2 separate regions of the Homo sapiens genome follow, and region 1 is linked to region 2. Evidence: fine-mapped expression QTL. A gene starts in region 2. The other region holds a variant in brackets. All regions are shown on one strand. Distances are between the middles of the regions. Region 1 overlaps MZT1 (mitotic spindle organizing protein 1). Region 2 holds the start of MZT1 (mitotic spindle organizing protein 1).

What was found. PIP is the estimated chance that this variant, and not a neighbour inherited with it, causes the effect.
Region 1: its variant is fine-mapped to the expression of MZT1 in anterior cingulate cortex (GTEx, PIP above 0.99).

Annotation. Positions count from the first base shown.
Region 1 is chr13:72,703,979-72,709,361 of GRCh38, reverse strand. It overlaps MZT1 (mitotic spindle organizing protein 1), which reads left to right. Exons shown (of 3, transcript NM_001071775.3): 3 at 1-995. It also overlaps the pseudogene RPL21P110 and the pseudogene RNU6-80P. Among named protein-coding and RNA genes, the nearest start is that of MZT1, 21 kb to the left of the region's middle. The variant A/T (reference allele first, on the strand shown) is at 2,842.
Region 2 is chr13:72,724,615-72,729,997 of GRCh38, reverse strand. MZT1 (mitotic spindle organizing protein 1) reads left to right here and starts at 2,369. Exons shown (of 3, transcript NM_001071775.3): 1 at 2,369-2,474. The coding sequence starts at 2,396. BORA (BORA aurora kinase A activator) reads right to left here and starts at 2,075. Exons shown (of 12, transcript NM_024808.5): 1 at 1,991-2,075; 2 at 905-1,072. The coding sequence starts at 1,057. RefSeq lists enhancers at 1,794-1,843, 2,564-2,633 and silencers at 2,054-2,203, 2,727-2,908, 2,864-2,923.

The sequences.
Region 1 (5,383 bases), 21 kb after region 2:
ATAAGGATTTCCAGTCATTAAACAAAACTAAACAATCTTATTAGATGGGTGATGTGTTTCAAAGGATACTTGCTATTTTTTGAAGAAATAAGGATTTCCAGTCATTAAACAAAACTAAACAATCAAATGTTCTATATTAGGAATCTCAAGTATGGCTTTTTTTAAAAAACCTTTTTAACATCTTGATGTCAAGGATTATAAGTATGGCTTTTCAGAATTGTTTTGTTTGTCATTATTCTTGCCTTTAAAATTTTAACTCATCAAAGTGAAGATTAGAAATAAATTTTAGAAAATGTAGAATAGTATTGATTCTGTTCCTGTAATAGAATCTCAGTGGAGTTTTTTTGCAAAACTAATATGGATTTCATCTGATTTTATTATTTCTTAAATTTTAGATTTTATTGAGTACCATTTATATGATTGTACAAGCATTCACTCTTTACTAGCATTTTTTGTTTTTCAGACAAGCTGAAGTGGTTTTATTAAGATTTGGTAATATTTAAATAGCAACCTTCTCTGCCTTTTTTTTTTTTTAATATAGAATTTTGACCATTTTGACTTTTTAAATGCCTGGCATCTTTACCAACCAAGTAAACTGGAAGATCTGTTACTGGTAGAACAGGTTGAGGAGACAGTAGGAATTTGTAAAAAGTCATTTGATTTATAATCAACACTACAAATACTATGTGTTATTTATAAAATCATAAAGAACACTTTTGTCAGACTCCAAAATTTGTATATACTTCCAGGCCATAAGAGTTGATAGTATTATTTATGACTTTGTAGATTAAGTTATTTATGTATGAAACAAAGCAGGAAAATATATTGAGAAGGGATCGTGTTTACAGAGGACTTCTTTAAAGTGTCACATTTTTAAAATGTAAACATATTTTTAATGCATACTTAAGTAATATTTAAGAAACTAAACAAAATAATGATACAATTGCAGTGTTGTGCTTGTTGTCAATGACAAAAATAAAACCATTTTGGTGGTATTGGCCTGTACTTTTGTTTTAATATATGCTTTTGTTAATTCAACTTGTGTTTCTATAGGACAAAAGATACAGAACATAAAATTTACCATTTTAACCTTTTTTTTTTTTTTTTTTTGAGATGGAGTCTCACTCTGTCACCCAGGCTGGAGTGCATTGGCATGATCTTGGCTCAATGCAGCCTCCGCCTCCTGGGTTCAAATGATTCTCCTGCCTCAGCCTCCCGAGTAGCTGGGATTACAGGCACCTGCCACCATACCTGGCTAATTTTTTGTATTTTTAGTAGAGGCGGGGCTTCACCATGTTGGCCAGGCTGGTCTCAAACTCCTGACCTCAGATGATCTGCCTGCCTCAACCTCCCAAAGTGCTGGGATTATAGGCATGAGCTACAATGCCCTGCCCTTTTTAACCATTTTTAAGTTTCATAGTTCAGTGACATTCAGAATATTCTTATTGTATTGTAACTATCACTATTGTCCATCTCTTGAACTTTCTTATCCCAAACTGAAACTCTGTACCTGTTTAGCAGTAACTCCCCATTGCTTCCTCCTCCCAGCCCCTGGTAAACAGTTTCCTACTTTTTTGTCAATGAATTTGACTATTCTGGATACCTCATATAAGTGGAATCATATTTGTCCTTTTGTGTTCGTCTTATTTTACACAGCACGTCTCCAAGATCTATCCATGTTATAACATGTATCCAGATTTCCTCTTTAAGGATGAATATGTCTCATATATACATGGGAGACAGGTATTCTTTTATATATATGGTGGACATTTGGGTTGTTTCTACCTTTTGTCTATTCTGAAAAGGCTATTCACAATAGCCACAATGTTATGGGCATTGGTATACAAATAACTGTTCAGGTCCTTGTCAGTTCTTTGGAGTGTATACCCAGCAGTGGAATTGCCAGCTTTTAAACATTTTTTTTTAAGTTTAACTTTAATTCCATAGGCATTAGAGAAAGAAGGGGACATGGTCAAGCTTTTTTTGGGAGTTGCTTTGCTAGTGACATGTAGGCTTGATTTGAGCAGGGAGAGGTTAGAAGCAGAGACTAGTTAGAACACTACTGAGTAACCCAGGCCTCAATGCTCACATCTGGGTAGATTCAAGAGACATTACAAAAAATAAACATAGGACTTAATGGCAGGTTATGGGGAAAATAGAAAAGAAAATAAGGTGACTGAGTTTCTAAGCCTGGGTAACAAAGATATTATCAGCAAATGGAAATCAAGAAGGGAATATAATTTTCCTGGAAAAAAATGATTTTTATTTAAAGAGTATTGTGTTTAACATATATATTAAATCTTAAACCTTGCCAATCTTCCAAAGACCATTGCCCATCTCCATTTTTTTTTGTCCTACAGCATTACCACTCTCTAACATAGTATACAATTTACTTAGTTTTATCTATTAATATAAACAAATATACCTCTACCTGAAAGTCCCACAGGGGCGGGGATATTTCTGTGTTGCCACTGGTGTATCTTAAGTGTCTTGAACAGTGCCTAGCACATAAGAAATGCTCAATAAATACATGTTGGCTGAATGAATGGATAGACTGGGCATCCAGGAAACAACATGTACCACGTGGTTGAAAATAACTAACATTGAGAACTTGCTGCATGCAAGGCACTGGTTTTGGTGCTTTTAATAGATCAAATTGTTTAACCTTTAGGCTTACAGCAACCACGAGAGATAGATAGCATCATCCTATTATAGGTCAGGAAGCTGAGGCACAAAGTGGTATACAACTTAAATCTCAGAAGTGGTAGAGCCAGGATTTGAACCCTGGTAAATTGAGTCTGGAGCCCACACACCTTAGTGCCTGTTACTATACATCATCTC[A/T]TGGGATGAAGAGGCACAACTGGAGAGGAAGATGAAGGAGATTGAAAATCAGATGGCCAAAGTGGTAGTCGAAGCTCTGGATGTAGATGCTGAGAATTTAATAGAAGACTAGTGACAGATGCTTCTCTTTCCCAGGATTGTCCCATTCTTAGGGAATATACCATTGATGATGGTAGGTTGGTGAAGTTTTGTAGCATCTCAGCAGATCTATATTACTGCTTTTTAATTACAACAATGTAAATAAATAACAGGTTAAAGTCATTCCCTTTCCAGAGGTGCTATACTTGAGAAACCCAGTTCTAACAACAAAAAGATCTCTCTTTTATGAAGTTCACTGTTGGGCTCATATATACCAGACTGGAGTATTGTAAATGTTGTAAAAAAGATGGTGCATGTGGTACTCACTTTGGCAGCACATACACTAAAATTGGAACGATACAGCAAAGATTAGCATGGCCCCTGCACAAGGATGACACACAAATTCGTGAAGTGTTCCATATTTTTAATTGCTTCAAAGAGAATAAAATACCTAGGAATCCAACTTAGAAGGGATGTGAAGGACCTCTTCAAGGAGAACTACAAATCACTGCTCAACGAAATAAAAGAGGACACAAACAAATGGAAGGACATTCCATGCTCATGGAAGAATCATGAAAATGGCCATACTGCCCAAGGTAATTTATAGATTCAATGCCATCCCCATCAAGCTACCAATGACTTTCTTCACAGAATTGGAAAAAACTACCTTAAAGTTCATATGGAACCAAAAAAGAGCACACATTGCCAAGACAATCCTCAGCCAAAGGAACAAAGCTGGAGGCATCACGCTACCTGACTTCAAACTACACTACAAGCCTACAGTAACCAAAACAGCATGGTACTGGTACCAAAACAGAGATATAGACCAATGGAACAGAACAGAGCCCTCAGAAATAATGCTGCATATCTACAACCATCTGATCTTTGACAAACCTGACAAAAACAAGAAATGGGGAAAGGATTCCCTGTTTAATAAATGGTGCTGGGAAAACTGGCTAGCCATATGTAGAAAGCTAAACTGGATCCCTTCCTTACACCTTATAGAAAAATTAATTCAAGATGGATTAAAGACTTAAATGTTAGACCTAAAACCATAAAAACCCTAGAAGAAAACCTAGGCAATACCATTCAGGACATAGGCATGGGCAAGGACTTCATGTCTAAAACACCAAAAGCAATGGCAGCAAAAGCCAAAATTGACAAATGGGATCTAATTAAACTAAAGAACTTCTGCACGGTAAAAGAAACTACCATACAGTGAACAGGCAACCTACAGAATGAGAGAAAATTTTTGCAATCTACTCATCTGACAAAGGGCTAATATCCAGAATCTACAAAAAACTCAAACAAATTTACAAGAAAAAACAACCCCATCAAAAAGTGGGCAAAGGATATGAACAGACACTTCTCAAAAGAAGACATTTATGCAGCCAACAGCCACATGAAAAAATGCTCATCATCACTGGCCATCAAAGAAATGCGAATCAAAACCACAATGAGATACCATCTCACACCAGTTAGAATGGCGATCATTAAAAAGTCAGGAAACAACAGGTGCTGGAGAGGATGTGGAGAAATAGGAACACTTTTACACTGTTGGTGGGACTGTAAACTAGTTCAACCATTGTGGAAGACAGTGTGGTGATTCCTCAAGGATCTAGAACTAGAAATCCCATTTGACCCAGTCATCTTTACTGGGTATATACCCAAAGGATTTTAAATCATGCTACTATAAAGATGCATGCACACATATGTTTATTGCGGCACTATTCACAATAGCAAAGACTTGGAACCAACCCAAATGTCCATCAATGATAGACCGGATTAAGAAAATGTGGCACATACACACCATGGAATATTATGCAGCCATTAAAAAGGATGAGTTCATGTCCATTGTAGGTACATGGATGAAGCTGGAAACCATCATTCTCAGCAAACTATCTCAAGGACAGAAAACCAAACACCGCATGTTCTCACTCATAGGTGGGAACTGAACAATGAGAACACTTGGACACAGGAAGGGGAACATCACACACTGGGGCCTGTCCTGGGGTGGGGGGAGGGGGTCGGGTAAAGCATTAGGAGATATACCTAATGTAAATGACGAGTTAATGGGTGCAGCACACCAACATGGCACATGTATACATATATAACAAACGTGCATGTTGTGCACATGTACCCTAGAACTTTAATTAAAAAAAAAAAAAAAAAAAAAGATGGTGCATGTGACAGCCCTAAATAGCAGTCTCAGGAAATCTGTTAACAAGTGACACTGTCCATTAGAATAGGGCAGAATTTTTTTTTTTTTAGCAGTCCAGAGGTCTTTTATTTTAACACCTATTGTGCCATGAACTTATAGGGAATAGGCTCCAGCAGCTCAGACTCCTTCCCATTGGTTCTCACAAAGTGTGCTTCTCTGGGTGGAGCAGGCTGGCACTTCAGTTGCACCCAGGTACCTTTCTCTTTGGCTTCTTTTTCTGATAATTTTCCTTCACATGTTTCA
Region 2 (5,383 bases):
CATGGTGAAATCCCATCTCTACCAAAAAAAAAAAAAAGATAAAGTGATGAAGCCTTTTCTAATATCCTGAAGAACACTTTTCCTTCATATTACTATTGTCCTAAGTACTAATCATATCACCTATCACACTGCCTTGATATTACTCATCTAGTTCTGTTTAACACATTAAAATAGGGGTTAGTTTCTTTTTATAATAGATTGCAAGCTAAGAATTATTTTGACAGTTTCAAATGGTTGGGAAAACAAACAAAAAAATATCTTGTGACATGTGAAAATTATATGAAATTCAAATGTGTCCATAAATAAAGCTGTATTGGAACAGAGTAACATTTATCTCTTTACACATTGCCTATGGCTGCTTTTGTGATACAAGACAGAAGTGAGTAGTTGTGACAGAGACCAAATGACCTGTAAAGCTTAAATATTTACTGTCTGGCCCCTAACAGAAAGTTTGTGACCCATACATCGGAGTATAACCTCCTTAAGGATTTGTGCCTAATGATCCTAACTTGTTCACAGTGTAATCCCTGCTTAGCACTGTATCTGACACATAGCAACACTCAAATAATGTTTGCCAAATAAGTGAGAACAGAATATTAGATGATGCAGCTTCTTCTCTAATGTATTAGTAGCTATATCGTCAACCACAGAATGTAGCTACACCCACAACTGCAGGAAGCTAACGTATGTTCTTGAACTTAAAAAAAAAAAAATCTTCTAGCTAACTTATTAACCTAACCACTAGATTATAATGAACACTACAATTTAAAAAAGTATATTGCAGCTATATATGCTCCATAATGTATTTCCTCCTTACCTTGTAAAGACAGATGTTTACATTTAAAATTATTTGTAATTACTTACATTTAAAATTAGTTGTAAACACTAGTCAGGAATAACTTACTGGTAATTTTGTTGATTTAAAAACAGAAGGACTGGCGAGAGTTTGTTCATGGAGATTAGAATAATCACTAGGACTTTCAAAAGGATTTAAAACAGGGATCCTTCCTGGAGTTTCTGGTGTTATTTGCATCTTTGATTCCTTGACATCTCCCATAGCACAGAGAGAAAACTAAAAAGAAATCAAGAGTATGCATGTTAAAATTACAAAGTCCCATAGATATTAATTTTAACTATTAAAATGTACTCGACAAATGTGTCACAAAAAACAACTCAAAACCTCACACTCTTGGGGCTATGATACAGCTTACAAAAAAAGTATCACATATAAATGTTCTCAACTGATCCTCGAAACAACCTTGAAAGCTATAGCAGTAACTTACTAGTGATATTATTTTGCGAAAGTATTAAGCTCAGAGAAGTGAAGTGGCTTATACGCAGCAATCAAATATGAATGAATTCAGATCTGCCTCTGAGGAAACTAAAGGTTACAACAGGCCCAGATCTCTTCTCAACTAAAGGACTTATAGCTACAATTTTTTTTAAATTCATCATCTCATGTCTCAACACTATGAACATTCTTCGGATACCCTATCCAACTACAGTTGCTATTAAACAATTCTTTGTAGCAAGCAGGTAAGAGATGAGGAAGCTTGTGCCTTTCTTGCACATGAGTCCTAGCCAGAGAAGTATGATTGACAGGGGCTAGGAAATTAACTGCCTGGGGTCCCCTTTCCTCCAAAAATCCTCCTTTCGCCAAGACCTCCCCTCCACCCCTCCCGGGATAGAAAGGGAGACTGCATTACTTGCAATCAAAGGAGGCTACAGAGGCTACACCTTGGCGGGGTGGGGTGGAAAAGAGTCTACTTCTGGAAGGTTGAGATGCAGCCGGCTTCCCTGGATGGAGTGCGAAGGAGGCGTCGCCCCCAACCCTACGTGGCCACTCTTTCTGGTGCCCCTCTCTTCCACACCTACTCCCTGACTGCTCCCATTCACCAGGGGCGAGCGGGCAGGCAAGTCAGGAGCTGGGAAAAGAAACCTCTCCATTCAGACAGGAGGAAAGGCCAGGGACCACAAAGAGCGTACCTACCGGTGCGTACAAAACGAAGCCCCCAGTACCGACTCCAGGGAGCTCCGGGGGCCAGGCCAGCTTCCACGACAGGCATAGACTCTTTAACTCCCCGCTTCCGCGCTGTCTTGGGCCAACCAGGGCACGGGGCTTGTGAGCGACTAGCCAATCGTGTCGTCCCGCCATCCGCGAACCAGCCAATCGCACGGAGGCCGCGTAGGAAATTCGAATGGCAACTCCTCGCTCCACGTTCCGCGCAGAGGAACGTGGCTCCAAATTCAAATCAACGCAGCCTCACGCCGGCGGCGAGCGCGAGGGGCGGAGCCTGCCCGGCGTGGGCCGAGACGCGCTGTGTGATTGCCTCGGAGAGAGGAAGGCGCTCCAGTTCCGGGTCAGGCCCTTCTCCCGCCTCCCTCGGCCTTAGCCATGGCGAGTAGCAGCGGTGCTGGGGCGGCGGCGGCGGCCGCGGCGGCGAATCTGAATGCGGTGCGGGAGACCATGGACGGTGAGTTTCCGTTGCGCTCCCTTTACCTTGCGTGCCTTCCCAGAGCCAAGGCCCCCAGGCGGGAATGAGCCTGGGGAGGACTTCAGGTCCCCTTAGTGCCCCAAACGGCATCTTCCAAGATCTTTGGTAGGGACCTGCCAGGGCCGCAGGGCTGATGGCCCTATCCCTTGAGAGTTGTCTCCGCCGCTGCGTAGTTTGTCGCGCGCGCTAGGCGTTGCGGCCCCTAGTCAGCCGGTTGCGCACCGCGTCCCTCTCGCGCGAATGCCGCGCCCCCTCTATCCCGCATCCCAGGTCCGCCCTACCCGCCCGATCTCCTGCGGTGACAGCGTCACGCCCACCCCACCCAGTACACCCGTTCCCTCCTGCGTGCCGCGTCCCACCCGATTCCCGCCCGGGGCGCTTCGGGGGTCCCCAAGGTTGGGATCCCGGCGGGGACAGGGGCCAGGTGTTTGGTCACCGCTATGCCTCCTGTTCTTCGCACTTAAGTAGGCACCTTTAATATCCGGCGAATGAACAAGTTCCCCTTTGGTCATAATTATCCTAGTTTCCTCTTGAAGCGGGTGACACCAGTGCCCAAGTGCTATGGTGTCGCCTGTTTTCGGCCCCGGAGGCACGTGTGTGTGAAGCCTACACAAGTGTTGCAGAACACGAAATTTGTGTCTTGCGGTTACCCTCTGTCTACCCTCTAATGTCGGTTCTGCCACTTTATGCCCCTGTGGTGAGCTTGGACTAGATACTTAAACATCATTGAGCCTGTTTAGTTTTTTTTTTTTTTTTTTCTGTAAAATAAAACCCTACCTCCAGGAGTTGTGAATATTTAAATAAGACAACCATGTAAAAACATATCAAAGATGATCAATTATTTTTATATTATTTCAGATGGCCTCTCTCTTGTAGTCTTCTTTCTTTGTCTCCTTTTTACTCACATCCACCTGTATTATGAGTGTTTGATCGATGTTGTTATTTGCAGTGGGCCTAGACGTTTTCCAGGGTCTACTCACGTCAGCTTCCGTCTCTGTTAAAAGATAACCCTATGAAATTCTCACTGCTGTATCTCTCTCTCCTTCACCGTAGGCTCTTTTTTTCTTTTTTGAGACACAGTCTTGCTGTAGTTGCCCAGGGTGGAGTGCAATGGCGCAACCTCGGCTCACTGCAACCTCCGCCTCCCGGGTTCAGGCGATTCTCCTGCCTCAGCCTCTGGAGTAGCTGGGATTACAGGTGCCCGCCAGAACACCCGGCTAATTTTTTGTATTTTTAGTAGAGACGGAGTTTCCCCATGTTGGCCAGGTTGGTCTCGAACTCCTGACTTCAGGTGATCCACATGCCTCGGCCTCCCAAAATGCTAGGATTACAGGCGTGAGCCACCATGCCCGGCCTCATTTTCTTATGTAGCACTTGCAGAGGGGCTGCTGGCTTTTTCTGCACTGGTCCTGGTTTTCTTTTCAAAGAATTACACTTTTAGAGCCTTTGCATCTAATTTTTCACTTGTTCAGTATCTACCTTGCTGTTTTTCTGAGAATGTTACTCTTAATATTCAGCTTATTTTTCTATCCTTTTCGATGTATCAACACTTAATAGTTTTATTTTGTAAGTGGATTTATGTATGAATATATATATGTGTGTGTATATAAATATAAATTTACTGTCTTGTATATTTCCTTGGAAAAAGGTAGAGTATAAGACCTCACTTCTAGCCTATTTTCTTAGGTTAGCTGTACTTAGGTTCCTTATGTATATGGCCACAGGATCCCATTTGAACAGAAAACTCACATTTTCTCTGGTGGAATCACTGATGTACAATTGAGAACTGATGGTTTGTGTTGGCTGCATCATCAAGATCTCTTCTGAGAAAACTTGGTGTGAAATGAAGATTATAAAGAGAGTAAGAACACAAAAAAGTGAAGTAAAACAAAAAATGAAGGAGAGGGGATGTGGTGTTACACAGTATTTAAATCAACCCGTGAGATCAAAAATAAAATTTTCAAAACTTTTTGAATACCATTTCTCCCCTCAATGGTAGCATTTGTGAACCTCCCTTTAAGTCATGTGAATTGCAGAACTCTTGGCTACATTTGCATTTTGATCATGAAATGAAAGGATTTTGTTAAAGACATGGAAGGAAGCAGGCTAACTTTCTATTAATAAATTATCTGTGCACCTCACTCTGAAAAGAACTATCTCTGCCAATTTAGAATAAGGTCTGCATGAGATCTCTGCTTTCATCCTTATATCCCTAAAATTCTACACGCTTAAAATAGTCGTGCCTTTTCAACAACACCCCCCTCGCAACCCACTGTGTATGGTTGCCTCTTTTGCTTTTCAACTTTTTGGTATGTTAGGTACTCTCTATTGATTGCTTTTTATACCTTAATTTTTATTTTCCTCTAAAATCGTCCTGTGCATCTGAATTTTAATTTTGATAATTATTCCTTATGAGAGGCTTTATCATAGCACTATTTTTTTTTTTTTTTTGAGACCGAGTCTGGCTGGAGTGCAGTGGCGCGACCTTGGCTCACTGCAACCTCCGCCTCCCAGGTTGAAGCTGGGGATGGGAACCAATTCTCCTGCCTTGGCCTCTGGAGTAACTAGGATTATAGGCGCCCGCCACCACGCCCAGCTAATTTTTGTATTTTTAGTAGAGACAGGGTTTCACCATGTTGGCCAGTCTGGTCTGGAACTCCTGACCTCAGGTGATCCACCCGCCTCAGCCTCCCAAAGTGCTGGGATTATAGGCGTGAGCCACTGTGCCCGGCCTGTAGCACCACTTTACATATATATATGTGTATATATATATATATATATATGTATATATATATATATATTTAGTAGTAAGTACGGGTGCCTGTAATCCCAGCTACTTGGGAGGCTGAGGCAGGAGAATCGCTTGAACCTGGGAGGCGAAGGTTGTC